2 separate regions of the Homo sapiens genome follow, and region 2 is linked to region 1. The links come from fine-mapping of genetic effects on gene expression. Tissue or cell type: tibial nerve. Region 1 holds a variant in brackets; the other region holds the start of a gene. All regions are shown on one strand. Distances are from middle to middle.

Region 1 (13,026 bases):
TGCTAAGCCATAGTTCCATGAAAATATTAATAGAAACCATGCCTTCCTGCCCCATGCCAAAAAGGTGAACCAGCAGATAGAGACTACATGCACGAGCTGCAACTGTGCCGGTGTTCTGAGGGTAAAAGAATATGGGTACTATTTCATGCAAATCTCATGCAGGTTAATATAGTCAAACCCAGAATTATGAGCCTTCAGGAAACAAATCCATCTGTTAGGAGGGCTCTAAATTATATATGGCATCCTAGCTGAAAGGGAGTCTGGACAACACAGTTCTGCAAGCTTTGCAAGGAGGCACAGTAGAGTTTGGAAGAGATGTTGAGCCAGCCCACATAAGATATCTGTTATTATAACCAACACTTATTAAATGCATATTGTGTTATGTGCTGCCCTCAATATTTCATATATATTAATATTATCACAGTTAAATCCTCATTACAATCCATAAAATGGATATTATTACTATTCTTCCCTTACACATGTGCCCACTGAGGCTCAGACAGTTAAGATCACAAAAGACCCCTTTAAACTAGCCATCTGACTCCAGAGCTCAAGCTTTTAACCACATTTTTGTCTAAGTATTTGTCTTGTTCACTGATACACTGTCAGTACCTTCTTTTTTTTTTTTTTTTTTTTTTTTTTTTTTTTTTTTTTTTTTTTTGAGACAGAGGCTTTATCTGTTGCCCAGGCTGGAGGGCAGTAGAGCGGTCACAGTTCACGGCAGTCTTGATCTCCCAGGATCAAGCAATCCTCCCACCTCAGCCTCCCGAGTAGCTGGGACTACAGATGTAGTCCACACCCAGCTAATTTTTGTATTTTTTGTAGAATCAAATTTTTGCATGGGTTTCACCAGGAAGCTGGCTTCATAAAAGGCTTCAGATTCAGGAGGGGAAGATGGCACAGCAATCTGTGTTGTGTGGACTAATGACCAGGGACCAGGTGGGCATGAGGACGCCTGGTCTCAAATGCTTGAACTCAAGTTCAAGCTCACCTTGGCCTCCCAAAGTGGTGGGATTACAGGCATGAGCCATCATGCCCGGCCATGTTCTTGATAAATAGAAAATGCTCAATATGTGTATTAGTCCATTTGCATGCTGTATATAAAGACATACCCAAGACTGGGTAATTTATAAAGGAAAAAGATTTAATTGACTCAGAGTTCCACATAGCTGGGGAGGCCTCACAATCATGGCAGAAGATGAAAGAAGAACAAAGGGATGTCTTACATGGCAGCTGGCAAAAAGAGAATGAGAGCCAAGCAAAAAGGATTTCCCCTTGTAAAACCATCAGATCTCGTGAGACTTATTCACTACCATGAGAACAGTATGGGAGAAACCATCCCAGTGATGCAATTATCTCCCACTGAGTCCCTCCCACAGCACATGGGAATTATGGGAGCTACAACTGAAGATGAGATTTGGGTGGGCACACAGCCAAACCATATCAGTACATAATTATTAAGTTGAATACCCACCTCTATGCAATTATGAAAGACTTTGGGTCTTTTAGTTTAGCTCTGTCCTATTTCTCCTTTTACTTGGCGCATAATAAGTGCTTGGTAAAAAATAACATTGGCTGACCCAATGGAACCTAGTGAACCTTAAAGAGTTGTCAGCATTTGACAACTGTAAAGCTCTGAGAATCAAAATCTTGGCCTTGAAGTTGCAACCTGAGACTCTTTGGAACTCAAGGCATCACAGAAGTTTTTGAAGAATTCAGCATAATTCCAGACATCCCTGTCCAGAACATCACCCTCTTCCTCCACCTGAAACCACAGATGAGATAAATCTTCATAGCCAGATTAGTTGGGAAGGAAGAGCTGGAGAGGAGGCAGTGGCAATGGCATGTCCTTCAGAAGAAGAACTGTTCTCTTCCCTCCCTGAGTTGAGTCCCCTGTGATGGTGGAATTCACAGAAACCCAGATTGGTTTGGTAGATTCAAGAGCAAAGAGTATCTTCACACTCTGGAGGAGGGATATCCTGCAGAGGTATCAAGAGCTAAAATGCTTCTGTCACCAACTTAGTAAAGTAATAGTGGAGAAGAGATAGTTCTGTGGAGTGCTTAAGCAAAAGGAACTGGCAGAATTCTCTGTGTCCCAAAGAAGTGTAAGAAGAGCTAAATGTTGCCTTTGTACCCAGAAGGTGCATCCAAGTAATGAAGGGAGCTGGCCACATAAAAGCATCAGATTCAGGATGGGAAGATGTCAGAGCAATCTGTGTTGTGTGGACCGATGGTCAGGAAGCAGACAGGCCTAAGGATTCCTGGCAGATGCCCGCATGTCCAGACCAGGAATTCACTCCACTGCACTTGACCTCTTGCCTCCAAAATATCCCCCAAATTTAGATTTCAAATCAAGAATTAGAAGGAGACCAAAAAAACCAAACACCGCATGTTCTCACTTATAGGTGGGAATTGAACAATGAGAACACATGGACACAGGAAGGGGAACATCACACTCTGGGGACTGTTGTGGGGTGGGGGGAGGGGGGAGGGATAGCATTAGGAGATATACCTAATGCTAAATGACGAGTTAATGGGTGCAGCGCACCAGCATGGCACATGTATACATATGTAACTAACCTGCACATTGTGCACATGTACCCTAAAACTTAAAGTATAATAATAATAAAATAAAATAAAATAAAAAAAGAATTAGAAGGAGTAAAATACTAACTGATAGAGATTAAGTTTTCCAACTCCTGGTGGAAATATCACTTAAAATTTTTATCATCAGACAGAAAATAAACAAAATTAATTTTTTTCACACATGAGTTCTGGGCCAAAATTTACGTCAACTGTAAGAAGTTGAACCAAGCAGTCTACTAATACGTAAATACTCAATGAAATAACTTTCAAAAGTGCCAATTTAAAAAGTAGAATTGTCCTACTTTTTAAGGACTGCACAAGAAAGTCTATCAAGAAGGAAAAAAAGAAGAGAAGAAAAAAATACTGATTATTTTAACATTTTAATATTAAATTAATTGATTAACACTATTATATTTAATATTGGCAAAAACCACAATTACACCTGCACCAACCTAATATAATGGAAATTATAAATATGTGGAAATTTTGACACCAATGAATGTGAATCATTTTTAGTTCTTCTGGAATAGAGAATGTCAACATTGCCTTAGAAGTAAATACAAAGTGTCACTGCAAGCCTTCCTTCTTTCATTTATTCCTTCAACAGATTTTATTGCATAACTAGTACATCAAGAACCAAATAAGCACATAGAATAACCTGGCATCCAAAAGCAATATAGGAATCAGAACTCAAGACTAAGGAAAAAACTTTAAAAAACCATAACAGGACCATGCATAATCTATTATTTATTACCATAATACCTTATTAACATGTATTGAGTACCTACTAAGTGCCAAGCACTGTGCTAAATATATTTGTGTATTATAGAAAGACATGCTAATCCTCAGATCACTTCAGCAAATGAAATTGTTTCAGCTTTGGACAACTCACACTCCCTTACATGACTTCATATTCTCCTGTTTCTCCCTTATCAACAGGATGAAGAACATGGCTTGTTAAACAGCTCCCTCTACTATATATCAAACCTGGTGCCAAATTGATACCAGGGGTTGATCCAAATTCCTTTAACCTGGGACAGTTCACTAGCATTGTAGCCAGATTCAAAAAGGCTGGACTCCATCTAGATCACAATTTGTTCAGGAACACCTGAATTATGCGTTTCCTTCCCAAGTACACACACCCCTACCCTCTCATCAACACTCACAGTCCTAGAAATGTGCAATATCCCACATAAACTGAAGAATATGGTTTTTCTGAGGCCCCTGGACCCTGTCCAGCTGGCAGAGGGACATCATGAGAGAGCTCCTGAACCCATATGAGTCTGTTCATCACTGATACCAGTACTGATACCTTGGTTTTACTTACAGTGAAAGTCAAATGAGATCATCTATGTGATAGGCTTTTTAAACATGCTATACAATACCATACAAATGTTCAACCTCATAAAGTACTTTCATACTAAGCTCCGCTGGGCCAGGCTGGTACCTGACTCAGGACTGAAGTGACCCCCAACTTTTATTGAGTTGAATTTGACCTTATCTACTAATCTGTGTCTCCTCACTAGACTCCAAATGATGGGAAATTAAGGAAGTAGTACACATCATTTATAATGGCTTATAACTGTGGGAAGCAATGTTTTTTTTGCACAAGGGCCAATCCGGGAAAAAAGAAAATTTATGTAGGCTGCAAAAAATTATTAAAGAAATGAAGACATTTTCTACAGGCCATACAACCATCAGTTCTGAGCAGCAGCTGGAATTTGCACATCTCACTTAAGGCAATATTTACTGATGGGTGCTCAGGAAAGAAAGATGAATGAGATGAGCCTTCCATCCTCCACAGTCAGCCTTCATGGCTCTAAAGTTTTCATTCTTCTTGGGTGAATCATGCTCCTAGGAATGATACCATCACTGCTAGTTTCCTGGAATGGCCAGCCTCCCAGGCCGGTTGGAGGCCAGGCAGCTGCACAAGTCTCTTGTGGTTCCCGATATCAGGGGGTCACACTGGGTCAAGGCCTGGCTCTGCCACACAGAGTCCTCCACTCTGAAGACTGCACCTCTGGTTGCCAAAATGACAACCTGCAATTCTTTAAAGTCACTTCCATGGTTACTCGAAAGACCTCCCTCCCCAATTCCTTTTCTTTGTATTAGTTGAAAAGCAGTGCTTACGCTGGTTTGAGGCGTAAAACTACAGGGCCTCTTGCTCAGGTTGCTGGTAGCTTCTAAGTGGACTAAAGTTTTTAAGTCCAAACACACAGGATCTTAATGTAAAACCCAGCACCAAGGTAAACTATTCTTGCTGTATTGATGCTGCTGTCATGTTAGAAGGAAACATGGCACAGACCACAGAAAAAGCTTGGCATCATCATTACTTACCTATATAATGGAGACAAAGTCCTTTGGTAACCTCTGTTATCACAATATTTGGATCTATATTGCCAAAATGAAGACCCTTAGCAATCTTCAGTGGCTTGGGGGAGTTCAATTTACCTAAGGAATAAAATTAGGTTAAAAAAATCTTAAAAAAAAAAAAAGAGTCTCAGACAGCCAAATCATTGGAGACCAACAGAGATGCATTAAGGATTGAGATCTGAAAAAGACT[G/A]CAGGAGTCTTTCTATCAAGAAAGAGTGACCATAGAGAAAAGACCATAGAAGAAAACAGTGACCATAGAGAAAAGATCAATCCAGCCCTACAGCTCCGAAGAAGACAAGTGGCGTATCCTGAGGGGAAAATGTAAAGGGGATTGAGAAACTTGTAATAAAAATGACTGAATTGGGAGATGTCAAGGAGAGGGGAAGACAGAGAAAAGAAACTGAGCTTTTTCTCCGCTGAGAAAGTGCACAATTTTTCGGAGAGCCCAAAACTCCATGAGAAAAAGGTTCTTCTTATTGTTTGCTCTTTCCTCTCACAGCAGCCTAGCTGGAAAGCAAAGTCAGCTGGAAAAACACAATGCAACCTTCTGTTCAAGGGAAAGTGGAGGAAAAAGAAGTCCAAGGTTGCCTCCTTCTTACCCACTCTTGAGGCACATTTTTATCCCATTGTTGGACTCTGCGTTTTCCCAGGGGTTGCCATGGCATCAAAGAGACAAATGCCTTGCTCCTGTTTTAAAGCTGAATTCCCTAGCAAACAAAATTGTTTCCATTTGAGGATATTCTCACCCTCACACGAAACCAGAACTGCTTTCAAAACAATGTGTCTTTTTAAAATATGGATGAAATGTATTGCATTCTTCTGGTAATAGAAGAAACATATTTTTATTTTTAAAATGCATAAAAACATTTGAAAAACGAAATGCAATTGCCCTATAGATCTTCACCTACAGGTGGTCATGGCTCACATTTTGGCATATTTATTTCAGGTCTTTCATCTATAAATGTATATGTATTTTGTATTATACACTGCAAAATTGCAGCCCAATTACATATGCAATTATGCATGCTCCTATTTCTTCACTTGATATCCCATAGACACACTCTTCGGAAGCAGGGCTATAAAATCCAGAGATGCTCTTTATAGAGCTTTAACATTTTGCTCATTTGCATCTTGCATATTCTTATGAAAAGAAGAATTTAATAAGACAGCAGTTTGGCCTTTATGTCCCCATGAATCTAAACGTTTGAGAGAAGTTAGCAGCAGGGAAGCATGGGTTAACTGTGTTAGAAAATGTTTGCAAAGAAAGGCCTTTGCTCTCCATTAATTTATGCTATGAAAGAGAGAACACAGATAGTTTCATATATTATCCTGGGACTATATAAAGAAAAGAAACTGAGAAGTTAACTATAAAATGTCATGATTTTTCTTTCAATAGTTACATGTTCTTTAAAATTATAAGCATATTTTACAATTAGTAATTCATTAGCCCATTCATCCTTGCAAAACAGGTCAAGGTTAGTAGGAAACTGGACTCTGATGGGTGTAAAAACATGCATGAAGATAGTGTGCTATAGTGGAAATGTTTCTAGTTTCACATCAAACTAAAGTGGTTTCTAAACTAAGCCCTGCAATTAACACATGTGCGACCTTTGACATGTTACTAAAGTTCCCTAACTCTCAATTTCCTTATCTCTAATAATTTAGATTGAAAAAATGTCCAGCCACACGGTTGCACTGAGAATTAAATGAGAAGAAATATGAAAAAAAAAAAAAAAGGCCAGGTGCAGTGGTTCACGCCTGTGATCCCAGCACTTGGGAGGCCAAGGTGGGAGGATTGCTTGAGGCCAGGAATTTGAGACCAGCCTGAGCAACATGCAAGACCCTATCTCTATCTTTTTAAAATAAAAATTTTAAATTTAAAAAATGTAAAAATATGAAAAAAGCCTTACTCAATGCCTGACACATAGTAGGTGCTCGGCAAATATTTGTACTCTTCTTTCAATGGCAACCTGAGCTAGAACTTAAATTCTATCCTAGCATTACACCATTTCTATAAACAATGATGTTTGCAGTGTTCATTATCCAAGTGGCTAGTGATTCTATGTTGTTTTTTAGCTCCACATTAACAAACGTTCTTGGTAAACACTGCCTCCAGTCTCCTCTTAGTAAAAGTTATGTGATGTAAAGTTTTCTAATGAAATTTAAGAGTCAGGAAGAATAGGAATGTTCACATTTCCAATAGGTTCCCTTTTCTGAATTCCCATCACAGTAGAGGAAACAAGTTAATTTGTGTACCATCAAAACCCAAAGAAAATAAAAGACTTCCCCTGTTTGCTGTTAAGAATTTCCTTAACTATTCTACCAGGGCTTCCAGAATCAAGATTAAAAAGAAAAAGAAAAAAATTATGTCTCTGCACATTTCATATCAATGGAAGGATGTTGAAACTGTGCTGGTAAACAGAGTAAGGAAGCAAAAGCCTTGTTAGAACCTAATTGTTTTCTAATTAACCAGACTGGAAGTGGATGTTTTCAGGGTTTGCTCAACAGACTTTTGAAGATTATGAGATTAAATTAGACCAAGTATTTACAAAAGCTCCTGAAAATATATAGCAGACACCAAAAACATTCTTGTTAATATGGCCAAGATTGATTTAAGGCCTAAGAAATAGTAAAAGCATGGTTTATTTTTGGATATTCAATTTATTTACTTAGCGTGTCTTAGTCAAGGTAACTAAAATCAAAACCACTTGCATAGGTAAATCAGTATCACATTAGAAATGGGACAATTCATACCCCACATTTATATCCACCCCAGGTACTAATTAGTACTGGTATAAAATAGATAATTGATGGATTAGATAGACAGATAGATAGATATAAAGGAAAACACTATTTTTTTTCTTTTTTTGAGATGGAGTCTTGTTCCCTTCACATAGGCTGGAGTGCAGTGGCACAATCTCTGCTCACTGCAACCTCCACCTCCTGGGTTCAAGCAATTTTCCTTCCTCAGCCTCCCAAGTAGCTGGGATTACAGGTGTGTGCCACCACGCCTGGCTATTTTTTTTTTTTTTTTGGTACTTTTAGTAGAGATGAGGTTTAGCCATGTTGGCCAGGCTGGTCTCGAACTCCTGACCTAGATGATCCACCTGCCTCGGCCTCCCAAAATGGTAGGATTACAGGCATGAGCCACCACGCCCAGCCCACTATTTTTAACCATTTAAAAATTATTTAGTTACGTAACTGACCTACACTGCTGAGATAACCTATAAATTTCTATATATTGATTTCATTTTACGGATGATGGATTTGGCTAATCATCTAAAGACTTGAAAATCAAAACTGAAATATCTGGATTTTCTTCATGCGACAATGAGGAGCCATTGAAAGTTTTTGATCATGAAGGCTATGGTTACATTGTCACTAAAATGTCTTAGAAAGACCATTCAGAAAGTAGTTTGCAGAATAAACTGAAGGTGGGAGAAATTGGTGGCAGAAAGGTAAAATAGGAGGCTAATGAAATAATCCAGAAGAGAGGTCATTTTTAAAAGTGTGGTATTACACAAGTGTGCTTCCACTGAAAGGAATTTTATTTGGTTTGGGTGATTTGGTTTTGGTTTCAATTTTAGTGTTTTGTTCCTTCTACCCCATTAGTGATACCTTTTCTATTGTCTTTTATTCTTTTTTTTTTTAAATTTACCAAATACCCAGACTTCAAAGAGATATCTTTTTTTCTTTAGAGGAAATACAGCTATTTTCCCAACCCACTCCTTCCCCAACACATTCTCAGAAACTTCTGGCTTGTGACCTTCCATTCGTGTTTTAGAGTCCAGCCTCTGGTTCTCTGTAACTATAGGAGCAGATGTTGAAATCAGCCACAGTGTTTTATATTCAGCTCCCATCCTCTCCTCTCAAAGTACATACAAATGTGGGCCCCTCAAAGAAGCCACCTTTATATGCAGTCATAGACTATAAATTCTTTGTGAGATTACTTCTCAGCAAAAGAGAGACATGAAATGTCTACCAGCCAGCATTCCCAAATGAATCTTGACTTTTAATCCCACAAGATCTTTCAAACTGAGGTGAATTTCTTTGCAGTGAGACTTTGCAAATCCACAAAAAGTATTTCCTTTTAAGATGCCCATTCCTGAGGTTTTTGAGCTAAGGAAAACTGACTAGGCTTGGCAAGTGCAGAATTTGTGATTCTAGTGGTCTGCATTTTGGGTCCCAGACTTTTAATGATGGTAAAAAGACTTCTCATTCTTTTGAAAAGTATTGCCTGCCTCAGGGAATATATGTATTTTCCTTTTTCACTATGGGAATATCTTCCTTCTTTGGAATACACTTTTCTACCTGAAATAAACTGAAGAAATAGGAATCTTGATGATGAAAGAAAAATATGATGTTTGTTTTTACGTGATCAATAAGTAAACCTTCCTACTGATCTAATAAACAGCCAAGAAAATACGACATAATTGACAAAGCTCAATGACGTTTAAAATTGAAAGATATTTTAAGAATTATCTAGTTTAACTTTTCTTTTTTTTTTTTTGAGACAGAGTCTTGCTCAGTCGCCCAGGCTGGAGTGCAGTGGCGAAATCTCGGCTCACGGCAAGCTCCGCCTCCCGGGTTCTCGCCATTCTCCTGCCTCAGCCTCCTGAGTAGCTGGGACTACAGGTGCCCGCCACTACGCCCAGCTAATTTTTTTTGTATTTTTAGTAGAAACGGGGTTTCACCGTGTTAGCCAGGATGGTCTCGATCTCCTGACCTCATGATCTGCCCGCCTCAGCCTCCCAAAGTGCTGGGATTACAGGCGTGAGCAACCGCGCCCGGCCTTAACTTTTCATTTTTTACATGAAAAGGGAAACAGTTCTGTACTTTGTAAGAAAATAATTCCTTGCTGAGTGTACTAGTCTGTTCTCACAGTGCTAATAAAGACATACCCAAGACTGAGTAATTTATAAGTAAAGAGTTTTAATGGACTCACAGTTCTACATGGCTGGGGAGGCCTCACAATTGTGGCAGAAGATAAAGGAGAAGCAAAGGCACATCTTACGTGGTGGCAAGCAAGAGGGCATGTGCAGGGGATATAGAACCATCAGGTCTGGTGAGACTTGTTCACTATCATGAGAACAGCACAAGAAAAAATCCGCCCCCATAATTCAATTACCTCCCACCAGGTCACTCCCATGACACATGGGGATTATCGCAATTTAAGGTGAGATTTGGGTGGGGACACAGAGCCAAACCATATCACTGAGCAAAGTATAATGAACTAAACTAAAGAATATTCTCAAATTTCTCTAATAAAAAATCTAAAACAATGCCTGGCAAATTGTTCAGAGTTTAAGGATTATCTGATATGGAAAATATTCAGGAGAAGTATTATTTGAGGACTAATATGTTTACTATGCTCCAAGATCTATTTAACATGCCAGATTTGTTAATTTAAATGTAGGAGAAAAATATTTTTAAAACCTCTGGCACTTTCTCAAAGCACTTATCAAATAATTTTGAACATCCCTGTTATCTTTATCTACCAGTAAACTGTAAGCTCTGGAAAGATAGGGATGGCATCTGACTTGCTAATAACCATTATTATAGCAGTGACTAGGGACAGCAAGTTTTCCGTTGCTATGTGTTGAATGAATTCACTAAGTAATTAATGAAGATTCTAACATCAGGGCTGTTTTAAAAATAAACTTTTTACTTTTGAAATATTTTTAGGTTTACAGAAAAGTTGTGAAGATAGTAACAGAGAGTTCTTATATACTCTTTACCCAGTTTTAGTTTTTCCTAATGTTACCATCATACTTTTTCCATGGTACATTTGTCAAAAGTCAACATTAGTACATTGCTACAAGGTAAACTCCAGACATTTCTTGGACTTGAATTAATTTTCCCAGTAGCATTCTTTTTCTATTCCAGTACCCAATCCAGGGAGCCACATGTGTTTAGTTATCATGTCACTGTCACTTTAATGTCCTCTGGTCTGTGACAGTTTCTCAGAGCGTCCTTATTTTTCACCACCTTGAGAGTTTTTAGAGTATTGATTATGGATTTTGTAGAGTGTCCTTAGAATTGATTTTGTATGATAATGCTTTTCTCATCACTAGACTGGGATTATGTGTTTTGGGAAAGAATGCCACAGAAGTGAAGTGTCCTCATTACACATATTAGGGGAACATGATATGCATATAACATCACTGGTGATGTCAACCTTGGTCACACGGTTAAGATAGTTTGCTGGGTTTCTCCACTGTAAAGTCACCATTTTTCCCAATTCCTACTCTATTCTTTGAAAGCAAAGCTGTAAGTCTAACAACATTCAAAAAGGGGAAAGGAAGTTTCATCTACATAAATTATTTGAAATTTTTCTGTCAGGAAGATTTGTCTCTTCTCCCCTATTTATTATTCAATCATATTTATCTATTCTTATACTGATATATATATAAATAGATATACATAAATTTATAGATACATTCATATATATGAAATAGAAAATGAATGTATGGATACATTCATACATATATATTCATGTATATTCATATGTATGTACATATATATTCATGTATATTCATATGTATGTACATATATATTCATGTATATTCATACATACATATGTATTCATACATATTCATACATATGTATTCGTATATATGTATGGATTTATCCATAAATTTATTTTCTATTTCATATTACATTTCTAAATTATGCTACTTATTTTGTTGCTCAGATGAGTCCAGCTTTGGACATTGGGCATTCCTTCAGTTTGACTACTGCATTGTATTGATATGCTCCCATTCTTAAATTTCTTTTAGCACATCCTTACTTTTTGGTACTACAAGATGCTCCAGGACCATCTTGAATTTTTTTTCCCAGTTCTAGAACCAGCCATTTATCCAAGGACCCCTGGTTCATTAAATTGGAAAATCATATTTATAAACCAAGATCTGTTCACTGGAGTGCTTGTCTCTCCTGGGTGTGACTGCTTCTAGATTTTCACTGTGGCAGAGCCAGATAATGTATGTATATTATCATATGTATAATATATACACATCAAAATATTTCCTATTTGGTTTTGGTTTGCTCCTTCTGTGTATGTATTTGGGGTTTTTTTGTATGAAGTTTCCATTGTTTATTTATTTCCAATTTTTCATGTCATTTATTACTTTTTTTAAGAAATTCAAATTCTATTTTGCATATGGGGTATGTGTGTTGGTTTGTTACATGTGTATATTGCAGACAGGTAGTGAGCACAGTACCCACTAGGTAGTTTTCAACCCATGCTCCCTCCCTCTCTTCCCCTTCTAGTAGTCTTTAGCGTCTTTTGTTCTCATGTTTATGTCAATGTGTGCTCAACATTTAGCTCCCACTTTTAAGTGAGAACATAAGGTATTTGGTTTTCTGTTCCTGCATTAGTTCACTTAGGATTATGCCCTCCAGCTGCATCCATAGTGATGCAAAGGACATGATTTCATTCTTTTTTATGGCTGTATAGTATTCCATGGTATATATGTACCTTATTTTCTTTATCCAATCAACCACTGATGGGCATCTAAGTTGATTCCATTATCTTTGCTATTGTGAATGGTGAGGCAATGAACATACAAGTATATGTGTCTTTTTGGTATATGATCTATTTTCTTTTGGGTATAGACCAAGTAATGGGATTGCTGGGTTAAATTGTAGCTCTGTTTTAAGTTTGTAAGAAATCTCCAAACTGCTTTCCACAGTGGCTGAACTAATTGACATTTCCACCAACAGAGTTAAAGCATTTCCTTTTCTCTGCAGCTTTGCCAGTATCTGTTGTTTTTTGACTTTTTAATAATAGCCATTCTGACTAGTGTGAGATGGTATCTCATGATTTTGATTTGCATTTCCCTGATGATTAATGATGATGAGTATTTTTTTTCATGTGCTTGTTGACGACATGAATCTCTTCTTTTGAGAAGTGTCTGTTCGTGTTCTTTGCCCATTTTTTAATAGGGTTATTTGTTTTTGATTGTTGATTGGTTTAAGTTCCTTATAGATTCTGGATATTAGACTTCTGTCAAATGCATAGTTTTCAGATATGTTCTCCCATTCTGTAGGTTGTCTGTTTATGCT
Region 2 (13,026 bases), 44 kb after region 1:
ATTTGATTACATGCAAGTAGAATTTTTTTTGTAGTGGTCTATCTCTGGAATACTTTGCTTACAAAAAATTATAGTCTAAGCTTCAAGCAAATTTCAAAGAAAAAGTGATTGTGGACTCTGTTTGCTTACAAAATGTTATATTCTAATCTTTAAGCAAATGTCAAAAAGTGGTTGTAAACTGTTTCCAGTCTTAAAAATCAATTCCACAAATCATCGAAATGATTGAATTTGTGAATCATGCATAATATTGTATTCTACGTCTGGTTAAACCTTGTGCTGTGGTGTCTCATTGCAACTAAGGAAAAAATAGAGGTAGGATAGTATGGTGAATAAAGATGGAACCTTTTGTCCAGACAGTTCTAGATTTAAATCCTGGTTTTACTGCTTATTAGATATATCACCCATTGGTAGATTAGTTAATCTTTTTGAATGTCAGTTTCCCCAATCCATTAAGTAGGCCTATAAGGCATTTGACACATATTGTGCAATCAAATGGATCACAATGATTACCATTCAACAATTATCTGTTGTGTCCACTATGTACCAGTCTGCTCTAAGTACTTAGACTACAGATAAAAAATAGACCTTCTCTGCATGGAGTTTGCATTCTAGTGAAAGAAGACAGGCAATAAACCCCCCAGAAAAGTGTGTCATATAGTATTACAGAACATGACAAAGGTAAAAAAAAAAAAATAGAGCGAGATGAGGAGGATTCGTAGTTTCAGAAAGAGGGATTTGTGGTTTTGTATAGTGTAGTCAAGGTAGCCTCATTGAGAAGGTAGCATCTCGGCAAAGACCTAAGAAGGTGAGAGAATGAGGCATACAGATTTCTAAGGTAAGGGAGTTCCAGCACAGAAGAGAAGTCTAGGCTGGAGATATAAATAAATGCATGAATCTTAGCATCTAAATGGCATTAAAATGAGAGTAAATGAGATCTTGAGAGTGACTGGAAAGGAATAGAAAAGAAAAGATCACCAACAACTGCAGCTTTAGTGCACTGCAATTTTAAGACATTGAGAAAAGGAGAAAGAACCAGCAAAGAAGGCTGAGAGGGAGAGACTAATGACATGGAAATAAAATCAAGAGAGGTGTCCTGGAAGCCAAGTGAAGAGAGAAGGAGAGATTAACTCTGCCCAGTGTCATGGAGAGTTCAAGTAAGATAAGCATCTGTACTGTAGATTGTCTTGAAGCCTACTATTTTTTCCTCATTTACTCTTTAAACCATAAAGCTCAAATTACCTCACAATGAAATGGGTATGTTATAGTACCAACAAATCAAAATAATTTTTATTTGATTTATGTGGTCAGATTTTTTAATTTGATTTATGTGGTCAACCTACTCACATACTATTTGTTACTTGCCTATGGCAATTAAATCCCTTCCAATGGTCTACTAAAGAATAAAAGGTCGATGAAAAACTCACCTTGTCCAGTGATGTGAGAGAATAAGGGTCAAGGATTAAACAAAAGAAAATAGAAACACACTCATTAGCACATGGTAAATCTGAAAGTGAAGATTTTTCTAATGGTTCCTTCAGAGATGTCGTATAAAAAATAAACACCGTATTCTTAGCGTGACACTACTTCTGGCCTCCAGAAGTCTGAGAAGTTATAAAGAGAGAAAGACGGGAAGAAAAAGAGAGAGAAAGAAAGAGAGAAGAGTGAGAAGGAGAATGAGCATCCAGTTTTTTAACACGGGATCTGGTTTCAAAAAGGCTCTAGAGATGTTTTCAACATATACATCCTGCCTTCGGCATCCTTCAATTTTCTCCTGCCACTATTTCATTAGATTTCATTTCTTTGTGATTTTCTATCTGAAATTTCCAATTCAAGCTCCTATTTTGTACTTCATTTGGAACCTATCAAATTCTCATCCTTCTCTCCAGTTGAACACTCTTATTGAAATTTCTTGTAGATTTCTTCCTTATTGGTCATTCCCATTGCCATCCCCCTTGGATTCTAACACATTTGTATTAGCACCTTAAACACTTCTCCTCTACTTACTTTGTCCTTCATGTTCATCCAGTTTGTGGTCTCTGAGTTCAGACCTTCTGAAGGTGAGGAAGAACACTGGGGACCTTTCCTTTTGTGGAACATCAGCAATTTTTTAGTTTCCTTCTACAGGCTCTTTCTACAGACTCTTTCATAGTCACCCTTCCTGATGGATCTCTTTACCTGAATTTTCCCTCCTTCTATATGTTCTGAGACAGTTGGCAGTTTTATTTCCCTAAAATATGAATCTGATCTTTTCTCTCCCACTTTCCCTGAACATCAAGTTCTATGTATAAATGTATATCTCTATCAATCTCTCTAATTTCTCCTTTCTGCTCCAGACAGGACACTCTCCCTTATGGACCTCTAACACATTGTTTCACCCCCTCTCATGCTTAGAAATGGCTTCTCTGCTTCTAAAGTCTACTTTCTCCCTGCAGTCGCTTTCCTGCAACTCACATTAACCTCAATTTTCAATTCATGTTGCACTCACTGCTAATCCCACACACTACTATCATTCACTATGATATACTTTTCTGGGCTCAAATTGTGCAATAGTTAGCACTTTGTTTCATCGGAATACAACAACGGTTGGTTTACTATTCTTTTGTCTTCTAATTGTTTTGAGCACGCGTCTTATCTCTCCAGCCAGACAGTAAATTCATTGTAAGAAGGAGCACTGTCTCATAATCGCTTATATCCCTACCTCCTAATATAATGTCAACTAATTGACTGTAACTTTTAACTCTTGCCATCCTCGTTTACACTGGCTGGAAAACAACAAAAATACTTGGTAAAAGTAGTTCAATAAGATAAATGACAGCAGATAGTGCTCTATTATATATCTATTTTACAAAGGCTGAATTTGGTCATTAATATAAGGTTAATATTTAATGGAAGCTAGTTCGCTAACATATACTGCTTTTTGAACTATAATTCTGGATGTTTTGTGATCCTTCCGTAGTTACAATAAATTTTATAAATCCACCTGAGACTTCTTTCCTGAACTCCAAATTCGTATATCCAATTGCCTACTCAACATCTCCATGTGGAGAACCAATTGACTTTTCCAAAACTTGGTATCCATCCTCTCCCTCAAAAGAAAAAAAAAAAAAAAACCTAGTTCATCAACCTCACTATCTCAATTGATGGCGACTTCTATTCACTCAGGCAAAGAGTGATTATGAATCCTCTCTTTCTCTTAAACCCCTATATCCAATCCACCAACAGAATCAAAAGTTATCCATGGTACAACCATGGTACAACCAAGGTGGTAACACTCTCATTGTTACCACCTTGACACAAGCCACCATCATCTCTCATCTGGATTACTGTAATAACATCCTATCTAGTCTTCCTGTTTCACACTTGCAAAACACTCCTCTGCTTAAAACACCTCAATGCCTTCTCATCCCACACAGACTAAAAGCTAAAGTCCTTACAATGGCCTACTGGACCCTGCATGAATTGGGACCTGTTACATTTCCAACCAAATTTCCTGTTAACCCTCTCTTAGTCCCAGCTCTCTAACCACACTAGCCTTGTTCATAAAACATGGCAGGTATGGCCCACCACAGGACATTTGCACAGGCCCTTCCTGATATGCTTTTCCCATAAATATCCTCATCACGAACTCTCACCTCTTCTTCAAGACCTTGCTCAAATATTGCCTTCTCACTGAGGCTACCTTAGTGACCCAATTCTAAATTGCAACATTCCCTGCCTTAGCCATCTTTATTCTCCTCCCTGCTCTATTTTCTTTCCATAGCATTTATCACTATGGCTGATGAGAAAGTGCCTCTCAGACATTGAACTCCAGGAGCATAATTGACCCAAGAGTCCCAAGCTGTTTCACTCTGAAATCCATTCCTATGTTTGCTTCAAGGCTATGCTTCCCAGGGGCTACTCCCAGCCAGTGACTGAGCATGGCAAGAATGCTAAAATTCCTGAGAAACACTGGACTACTTTGGTTGCTGACAACTGATGTGTCTCATCATGTGTTTATTCATTCATTTAGTTGACAATACTAATACTTGTTAATTTTTTAAGCATTTGTTATTCATTCTGCACATATTTATTGAGAACCTCTGATGTGTCAGGCACTGTGTTAGGTGTCTGAACAAAATTTCTCCTCTCCTGGAACTTACATTCTGGTAGACAATAAAAGATTAAGTAAACAAAATACAGTAGATGTGGAAATGATGATGTTATTCTGGATCCTATAAGAAACAAATGCCAAGATGGGTTAAATGTACAGAATTTTATTAGGAGAAATGACTGTATGAGAGAACATGGGAGGACAGGCAGAAAAGGCTGGAGCTGGACATGTCTAAGAGGCAGGTGAAAGAGAAAGGGAGGCGAAGTTGAGTGGAAACATCCTAATCTGTATTGCAGTCCAAGGGAGATTGTCAAGACCATCAGAGCTCTGGCTCCAGGATTCCACTCAGGTCCCCCAGATTTTCCCAGCTCCAGCCTTTTCTGCCTACCACTCACATGATGATACCAATCAGTTGTTGCAACTCTGCTCCCTCCTAAATTCCCATCCTCTTTTTTTAAATCTTGTCCTCCCCTACACTAGCAAAATCTTGGGTTTTCCTCTAGCAGAAATGAGATTTGAGAGGTAAATTGTTTTTAGGAAAAGATCCAGACTAATAATTGGATGACTGCCCATTTGTTCTAGGCACCAAATATGCAATTCTGACTGAGATATTTATCATTACTGCTTTCTTGTCTTTAATTTCAGCCAGGATCTACAAATAAACATAATCAGAAGTCTTGAAGGTTTGATTTTTTTTACACTTAAATATGTTTCCAACAGTAATCAAACTTGGCACACATCCAAACAATCCTCCCATTCTCTGGTCTCCCTAAGTATCCCTTCTGAGGGTGTATGAGCAAGGACAAACTACTCTCAAGTATAATTTCAGACTCTTAAAACATGGGTTTCACCTTATAGTGACTGACAGAATGAGGGCTCTGTGGTTGGGGAACTCCAGTCAACAATGTGGGGAAACCTCAGTAGGGCCAATAAGTTTCTCCAGAGGACATTCCCACACCGTTCTGCCTTAGGCTGTTACACCCAGCTGTAGTGTTCTAGGAGCTAGACAGAGAAGGAGGCTGGGGGTCCAACCACTTCTCATAAAGACTGACTTAACCTTCAGCCTGTGCCTCTCCTTGCCCCGTGTCCTTGGGCAGTCCTTGATGAATGCCACTTATAAAGTCAGGCAGCTGGTGTTCCAATCCTGGCTTTGCTACTTACTAGCTATATGGCAAATTACCTCTCTGAGCCTGTTCCCTCATTTTTAAAGTAGGGATTATAGCACTTATCTCTCAGCACTTTGCAAGTATGCATTTACCTGTAGAAAGAATGCAACAAATATTAGCTATTATTATTACTAATATCAAAACTGCAAAGGAAATTAAACCATATGTTCAATGTTTGGGTTGTCCTTTTAACCTCTTCAGCTGAATGTTGATATGAAAGCGCTTAATAGCATTCAAACACATAATAATAAGGTAGTTGGTAATTAGGATTTACTTCAGCAAAATTTAATTAAAGAACCTGTAGGGAAAAGAAAACAGACAGAGCCAATTGTACAGCTTCCCAGCCTCTGCTTTGACCTAAGAGTCTCACTGGGCTTGCCTGCCTTTTTCTAAAGGATGGGCGAATATTCACACAGTGCCGGGCTCCAGGCAGTTACCAAATGTCTCATCACATTTTCAAAGGCTCACTCCTCTCTCTTGCGTAACCGGTGAGGTCAAAATGGGCACCTTCCTGAAAGCCAAGAGTGTCATTTCTGAACAGCGTCCAAGAAAGAAAACTGCATTCCATAGAAATCCAAGTCAAGCAATAACAAAAGGTGGCACTTGGTGCTTAAGCCACACTAAATACCTTGGTGGGCCAACTTCTTAATATAGTCACATTAACACCTTTGATTTCTCCATGACCTAAAGATTCCAAAGTTTGCAACAAAGTGCTGAGCAGGGGGGTCGGGGGTGGGGTGTAGACGGGGGAGAACGAACCAATGTAAATTTACCACTACATGAAGTTTAAAGTAGCTATAGATTGTTGTATTATTATCAAATCCAATCAGTGGAAGAAAGGCAAACAAGTGACTTGGCACTTCTGCCTCAGTCAAGGTAAGGCTCTCTCCCCTAGAGCTAGCAAGCAGGTAAACGAGCTTTGTACAAACACACACAGACCAACACATCCGGGGATGGCTGTGTGTTGCTAGAGCAGAGGCTGATTAAACACTCAGTGTGTTGGCTCTCTGTGCCACTCCTGGAAAATAATGAATTGGGTAAGGAACAGTTAATAAGAAAATGTGCCTTGCTAACTGTGCACATTACAACAAAGAGCTGGCAGCTCCTGAAGGAAAAGGGCTTGTGCCGCTGCCGTTCAAACTTGTCAGTCAACTCATGCCAGCAGCCTCAGCGTCTGCCTCCCCAGCACACCCTCATTACATGTGTCTGTCTGGCCTGATCTGTGCATCTGCTCGGAGACGCTCCTGACAAGTCGGGAATTTCTCTATTTCTCCACTGGTGCAAAGAGCGGATTTCTCCCTGCTTCTCTTCTGTCACCCCCGCTCCTCTCCCCCAGGAGGCTCCTTGATTTATGGTAGCTTTGGACTTGCTTCCCCGTCTGACTGTCCTTGACTTCTAGAATGGAAGAAGCTGAGCTGGTGAAGGGAAGACTCCAGGCCATCACAGTAAGTCTGCATACAGTTATAACTCATTAACGTTGTTACTTAGAGGAAGGCAGACCGTGGCCGGCTGCCCCTGTCGCTGAGCCCTCGCAAGTGGAAAAACAGAACTGTCAGCCTTCATGGACGAGTCTCTGTTTCTCTCTTAACCCTCATGACCCTCTGTAACTCTGGGGCTTCAGAACCTGAGTGCAGGGCAAACGTTCTTGATTTTCAAAAAGGCTGTGCCTGCATTTTAAACAACAATCAAAAGCTGTTAAGGCAGTCTGATTAACTATCTTTCACACTCTGTGGTGTACCTTAGAAATGCAGTTTTTCCTTAAATGTCCATTTGACTGGCATTAGATAAAAAAACAGATCCCCAACTTGGAAACTTTTTTAAGCTATGAATGCCTCAAAAAGTTAGAATTTTTTTTAAAGAGAGAAAAAGAAATTTTAAAAATGACCTGAAACTTTATATTTGTAGTGTGGTAGCATGTTCCAGAAAGCCTAAAATAATTAAAATGAATGTTAATATACGTAATTTAAGCATTAAACAAGAGAAAACTAGGTAAAAGCACGTATCAGATTAATTCTAAGATATCAGTTTCCAGCAGAGTCACAAACTGAATAAGATCCTGATAAAGGAATGCAGTGCATGCAGTGGATTTGGAAAATATTTTGTTAATACCGAGAAGGAAAATCGTACATTTTTTATGTTTGTTCCGGGAAAAAGTCAAAGCCAGAAATAAATTACTTTTCTTAAATGATCCAGCTTTCTTTTTAATTTTATAAAACCCTGTATTTGGCAGTAACTTGGAAATCTGTGTCACAATCATTTATCCCTAGCTATAACTTTTGATGTAATTGTTTTAAGAAGAAAAAGATCTTTGGAAAGCAATATCCCAATTTCTCAGCATTTTCTGCCACTGACATTAGGTATAGGAAAAAAATGAGTACTTTTTAAAAACTGATGCTAGATCAGGGATTTTTTGTTGTTGTTCTTAAAATTTTCATTGCATAACTAATTATGCTAATCCTAATTTAGATTTTTTACTAATTGATACAATATCTTAGTTTCACCCAGGAAACATTCAGTAAATTGAAATGTCTTCTTAGCCAATAGTAAGACACCAGAAGTCTATTGATAAGGTTGGCACTTTTCCATAAAACAATGCTTTGTTAAATGTCTAGCTTCTAATTATTACATTTTCCTCTCTTCAGAAAACCTTGGTCGGGATTATTGTTTGTTTTGTTTTGTCCTTTTTTGTCATTAAACTCAGCCACCATCTCAGCTGTCCTGCTTTAAGGGACAGGAACTCGGCTCTGCTCTGTTGTTTTTGGCATGGGCCTTTTACATTACAGCTGTTGTCTAAAGGTTACTTTATTAGACTGCGTGAGTTGTGTGGTCACAGGCTCCACTATTTCTAATGCTTATATCTCCTAATTAGCTAATTGAAATAGACAAGTAGACCCTTGTTCTGAATTTGCCTCTTTCAGTTGGGGGACACCCTCGCTCAAGCCCTTTTTCCCTCCAGTGTACCTTATAACTCTTACCAAAGCCACACATGTTCCAAAGATATGGCTGTATACAGTTATTTCTAAGGCTAGGAATCTTAGTCACTGAAGGTTCCAAACGCAAATAGAGACAGAAAATCCTCATAATGTCTTAAAAGCCATCAAGAGAGTAAGTAGCTTCCTGAATATGCAGATGTATGCTTTTTTGATGATTAAAAAAATTTTTGGATTATTCCATCAGCCTAAATATATCCCATTAGAAAGGATTAAACAAATCTCCCAAGTAAGATCACAAAGTAATTCTAGCTTGGAAGTAATATACTTGTATAAAGGTTGTAGGGAAAAAACTGGAAAAAGTTTATGGGAACAAATTTCTCATAAACCAGCCTACACCTCACCAGGCTAAATCCAGTCACATTTGTCACCACCTAGAGGAAAAGTGGAGCAGTGGTGTGTCCATGGAAACAACACATCCACTCTCCTCCCTCTTGGACGCCCTGGGACACGCCAGCTTTCCTCGCCCTCGCCCTTGCCTTGCCCAGGAAGCCACCTCAGCTAGTCTCTTTCCCCCTAGGAAAATAAAATCACAGAGTATGCAGAGAGTTTGCAAGAATTATTTCATTTTTGGAAATGCTTAAGCCTCAGAATCTCCAACCTAGACTAAAACTCAGAGAGTATCTTCTCATTTTAGCTTTTTCCTAGTACTTACCTACACTGAAATAATTTTTTGTATACTTCAAGAATGAAATCAGAAGGCAATTCCCCAATGCACCCAGACATAGCAACACATAGACCTCACTTTGGAGGAAAAAAAAAAAACTTTTACACTCTAGGATCTATTTGCTTTTTACATTAAAATTCGTTTCTCCAATTGCTGGCTATAAAATAAAATAATCTTCACAGTTGTATTTATTCTACCTGGTTTCAAGTGCCTAAAAAGTCATTATTTTTCACTGCAAAGAACTGAAAAAATAAACGTATATACCTAGAATTTGACAGAACAAAGATCCAAGTGCCAGTCTTTTTCTTTTTCTCAAAAAAAAAAAAAAAAAGGTTAAACACATTAAGTAGTTGAAATGTGACACTTAGGCTCTCAAATTGAAAACTAAATTACTATCGTGATGCCATTCATTTCTCATATCAGATCAGTAAATTGAATTTTAGATTAGTCAGATGTCTTCTCAAAGATTTAAAGAGAATAAGAGCAAAATTATGAAAGTATGCAGAAACAATTGTTCAAGGGTAGATACTTCAGTTTGGGTATACCAAATATAGATTCTATTTTACACAATTACTTTCATGTTCTTCCTTAATACTTTATCCATGCACCAACTCTTCCCTTACTAAATTAATGGTCAAAGTACCCCTTTGCCTAGAAGTTCAGTTTTCAACTATAATTTAAACACAGGGCTGCTTAAAATTAATTAACTATTATGTTTGATCTTTAAAATGTCTCTTGAGGCCCTTTTCAAGTCAGTACACACTTGAACAAATAGCTGATCTTTCTACAAAAGGTGAGCTAATTGGAATTCAATAGTATTTTGAAATAGACTAGTAATTTGAAATTCACCTTTAACAATACTGGAACTGAGGATACCAATGACTCCAGCATTCTCGAGAAGAGTGAGATGAAGAAGCGTGAGATGAAGGACTGAACGTACCACTGACAGAGTTATCCCTACAGAGTTACTGTCTGAAAGTGAACGTGGCCCACACTGAAGAACAACGAAAAGGCCCAGGGGTCTCTCCTCAGAAACACAAAGATTCCCTTAGGATGAGTAACATTCCGTATACTCTTAACATCTCCTCCACAGCTAATACATTTTCTTACCCCCATGCCTACAGCGACATTGGAAAATACCATTACAAATATGGATATGCTCAAACTGGAAAATTAGATCTTAAACTGTCTTGCGATCATAGACTCAGTTCTATTTGAAGGATGAACTCAGAGGAAGTTTAAGAACTAGAATCCAATTTCAGAGAACAGACTCAACTGAGAAAAAGAGAGTAAGAAGAAAGCTGACATTTTTATTCTCCTCCAGGCTTACCTTTAACTGTAAGGAATGTGTGTTATCAACACAGTCTCTCATGCCTTTATTCAATTAATGGTTATTAGGCACCTACTATGCACCAAGCCTTGTGCATTTAAATGAAAAGAAGTGAAATAAGGGGAGTCTGGAATGTGAGGAGTGGGGATGGGAGTGCATTGTAAGTTAAAATAGAGTGGTCAGGATGGGGTTCACAAAGAGGGTGACGTTTGAGCCTAGATGTGAAGGAGGTGAGTTCTGTCAAAAGTTAGACAATAAAAATAATCACAAGTACAAGCACCTGCCTAGGACTGCCTCCATTTGGAAAGGAGCCATATAAAGTCCTGACACTGGAATTTGAGCAACAGAGCCAGATTTTGCCGGCCAAAGCTGCTCATAATGAAAAAAAAAAAAAAAAAAAAAAAAAAAAAAAAAAGCTCTCACATTTCCCCTGATCAACTCCCTACTGCTTTCCACTCCCAAATACCCAAATAAATTTTTCTTGACTTGTAAATATAGGAATTTAAGAGACATGGAGTTCTTTACATAAAACAGAAATCTCCACAGTACAAAGACCAACATTAAAACAAGAACATGAGCACGGATGGGTTCTAGTTATTTCTTTAGCACATGTTCCCTGTTACAAGTGTCTCTGGGCACTCTACCTCATCTTGTTCCCTTTTTGTCAATATCTGGGCTCTTCTAACAGTCAGTAAGACAGTTAGTGACCCAAAAGCAAGACCTGCTGTGTGATTTGTGGGGCCCAAAACACAAGGGAATTGTGGTGGCCCTTGTTCAAAAAATATTCAAAATGTCAAGGTGGTGACAACAGAGCTTTGATCTAAGTGCTAGGCCCTTCTGAGCATGATGACCTGGGTGACTTCACAGGTCACAAACCCAAGAAGTCAGCCCTGCTTCTGTATTCCAGACTGGCCATACATATTTTTCCTTATTCGTTCTATCTGAACAAATAAGAGAGTAAAAACAAGTGTAAACTAGTCTGTGTCTTTAACAAAGGCATACCCTAACACGTGTTTGGATCATTGTATTATTTAGAGCTCTAAGGAATTCTTAAAGTACTAGTGGCCAAAGAATGCATAATGCCCCATTGTTAACCAACATACCTCATGATTAAGACATAGTTAGAGGAACAACTTCTAATTTGTCAGGAGCTTCCAAAGAAATTCACATGAAGATGGTACATGAAGATGTAGCAGTCTTCTAAATAAAAAAGTCCCATTCTGGAATATTCAACAATGAAACCTCAGCACAATTTTCCACAGTGCTGTACCAAGATTACATGTTTCTTCCAGAGAGGGAAAGGTTTCTTCAAACAAATGTGGTACGCCACACTTCTTTGCCAAACATAACAGCCCACCCATAAAGGACACCATGTGATGAGGTATAATAGTTTTGATAGCTCATTAAGGAAACTGCTTTTTGATAACTGGGGAAGGTTTTTCCACTGTGCAACAAAATGATAATGCTACTTTGCTAACTCCTCTACTGACAAAGATCCCCATGAACTTTCTGAACATTACTGGATGGTTGAAAGGAAAAGCTGCTTCTTTAGAAAACTGTGATTAAAACAAATTAGAGAATAAGCATCTAAGACTAACCAGAGTATAAACAAATGCAACACAGTTCAATTCTAAAACTGCAATAGGACTTCCACTTTTTAATCTGCAGTCTCTAACTACCTACCCTCTCTTAAAAAGAAATAAGAATATTTTAATTTATTTAAATGATAGTAATGTCATTTTGGGAAGAGACTCCATGAAAATTTACCACCTTAAGAAGTTCCCTTACCCAGAACCCTGTGGCATGCACATTTTCCTAAAACATCATCAAAGCAGTTTGAATGAGATCTATACTTAAAGTTTTTACATAAAATCCCAGGGACTGAGAGGATTCAGTCAAGCCACTTAAGAGGTAGAGCTAGGTTATCCTCAGGAGTTCTGAATGGAACTCAAAACTAGCTTCTGTCCTAAGCATCAAGTTTTCAATCTATTAAATGTATCAGTGATTGACACAGGATGATGTAACATAGCAAAGTGGGCTACAACAGCTATTCCTAATCAATTACGCTAACAACTCTGGAATAAAATGGACATCTCCTAAGAAAAAGAATTGTGAGATTTCTAACAATAATAACAGTGCCTATTCTTACATAGCATTTAGGCTATGAAAAATAAAACTTTCACATCCATTTTATCTCATTTGTCCAAGTAGTCCTATGAGTATTTTCAAAAGCATATGTTATCATTCCCATTTTATGGCAGAAAGCCTAGGCCAAGAAAAGCTAAGGAATTAGTCAAATGTCGGAACTTGAATCTATTCCTCTGCTCATCAGATTTTCTGACCACAGCATCATGACAAATTTTTATAAACATCAACATCACACCCCTGACCCCTGTTCAGGACTTCCGTAGATTTCTGGCTGGGCATGGTAGCTCATGTCTATAATCCCAGCACTTTGGGAGGTTGAGGCAGGCGGATCACTTAAGGCCAGGAGTTCAAAACCAGCCTGGCCAACATGGTGAAACCCTGTCTCTACTAAAAATACAAAAATTAGCTGGGCATGGTGGTCTGCGCCTGTAATCCCAGCTACTTGGGAAGCTGAGGAACGAGAATTGCTTGAACCTGGGAGGCAGAGGTTGCAGTGAGCTGTGATTGCGTCACTGCACTCCAGCCTGGGTAACAGAGTGAGACTCCGTCAGAAAAGAAAAGAAAAGACAGAAAAGAGAAAAGGAAAGGAAAGAAAAAAGAAAGAAAAGAAAGGAAAGGAAAGGAAAGGAAAGGAA

What was found.
Region 2: PALMD starts here. The variant in region 1 is fine-mapped to the expression of PALMD in tibial nerve (GTEx, PIP 0.94).

Annotation. Positions count from the first base shown.
Region 1 is chr1:99,595,389-99,608,414 of GRCh38, forward strand. No RefSeq gene overlaps it. Among named protein-coding and RNA genes, the nearest start is that of PALMD, 44 kb to the right of the region's middle. RefSeq lists silencers at 1-39, 5,405-5,699. The variant G/A (reference allele first, on the strand shown) is at 5,150.
Region 2 is chr1:99,639,662-99,652,687 of GRCh38, forward strand. PALMD (palmdelphin) reads left to right here and starts at 6,452. Exons shown (of 8, transcript NM_017734.5): 1 at 6,452-6,701. The coding sequence starts at 6,657.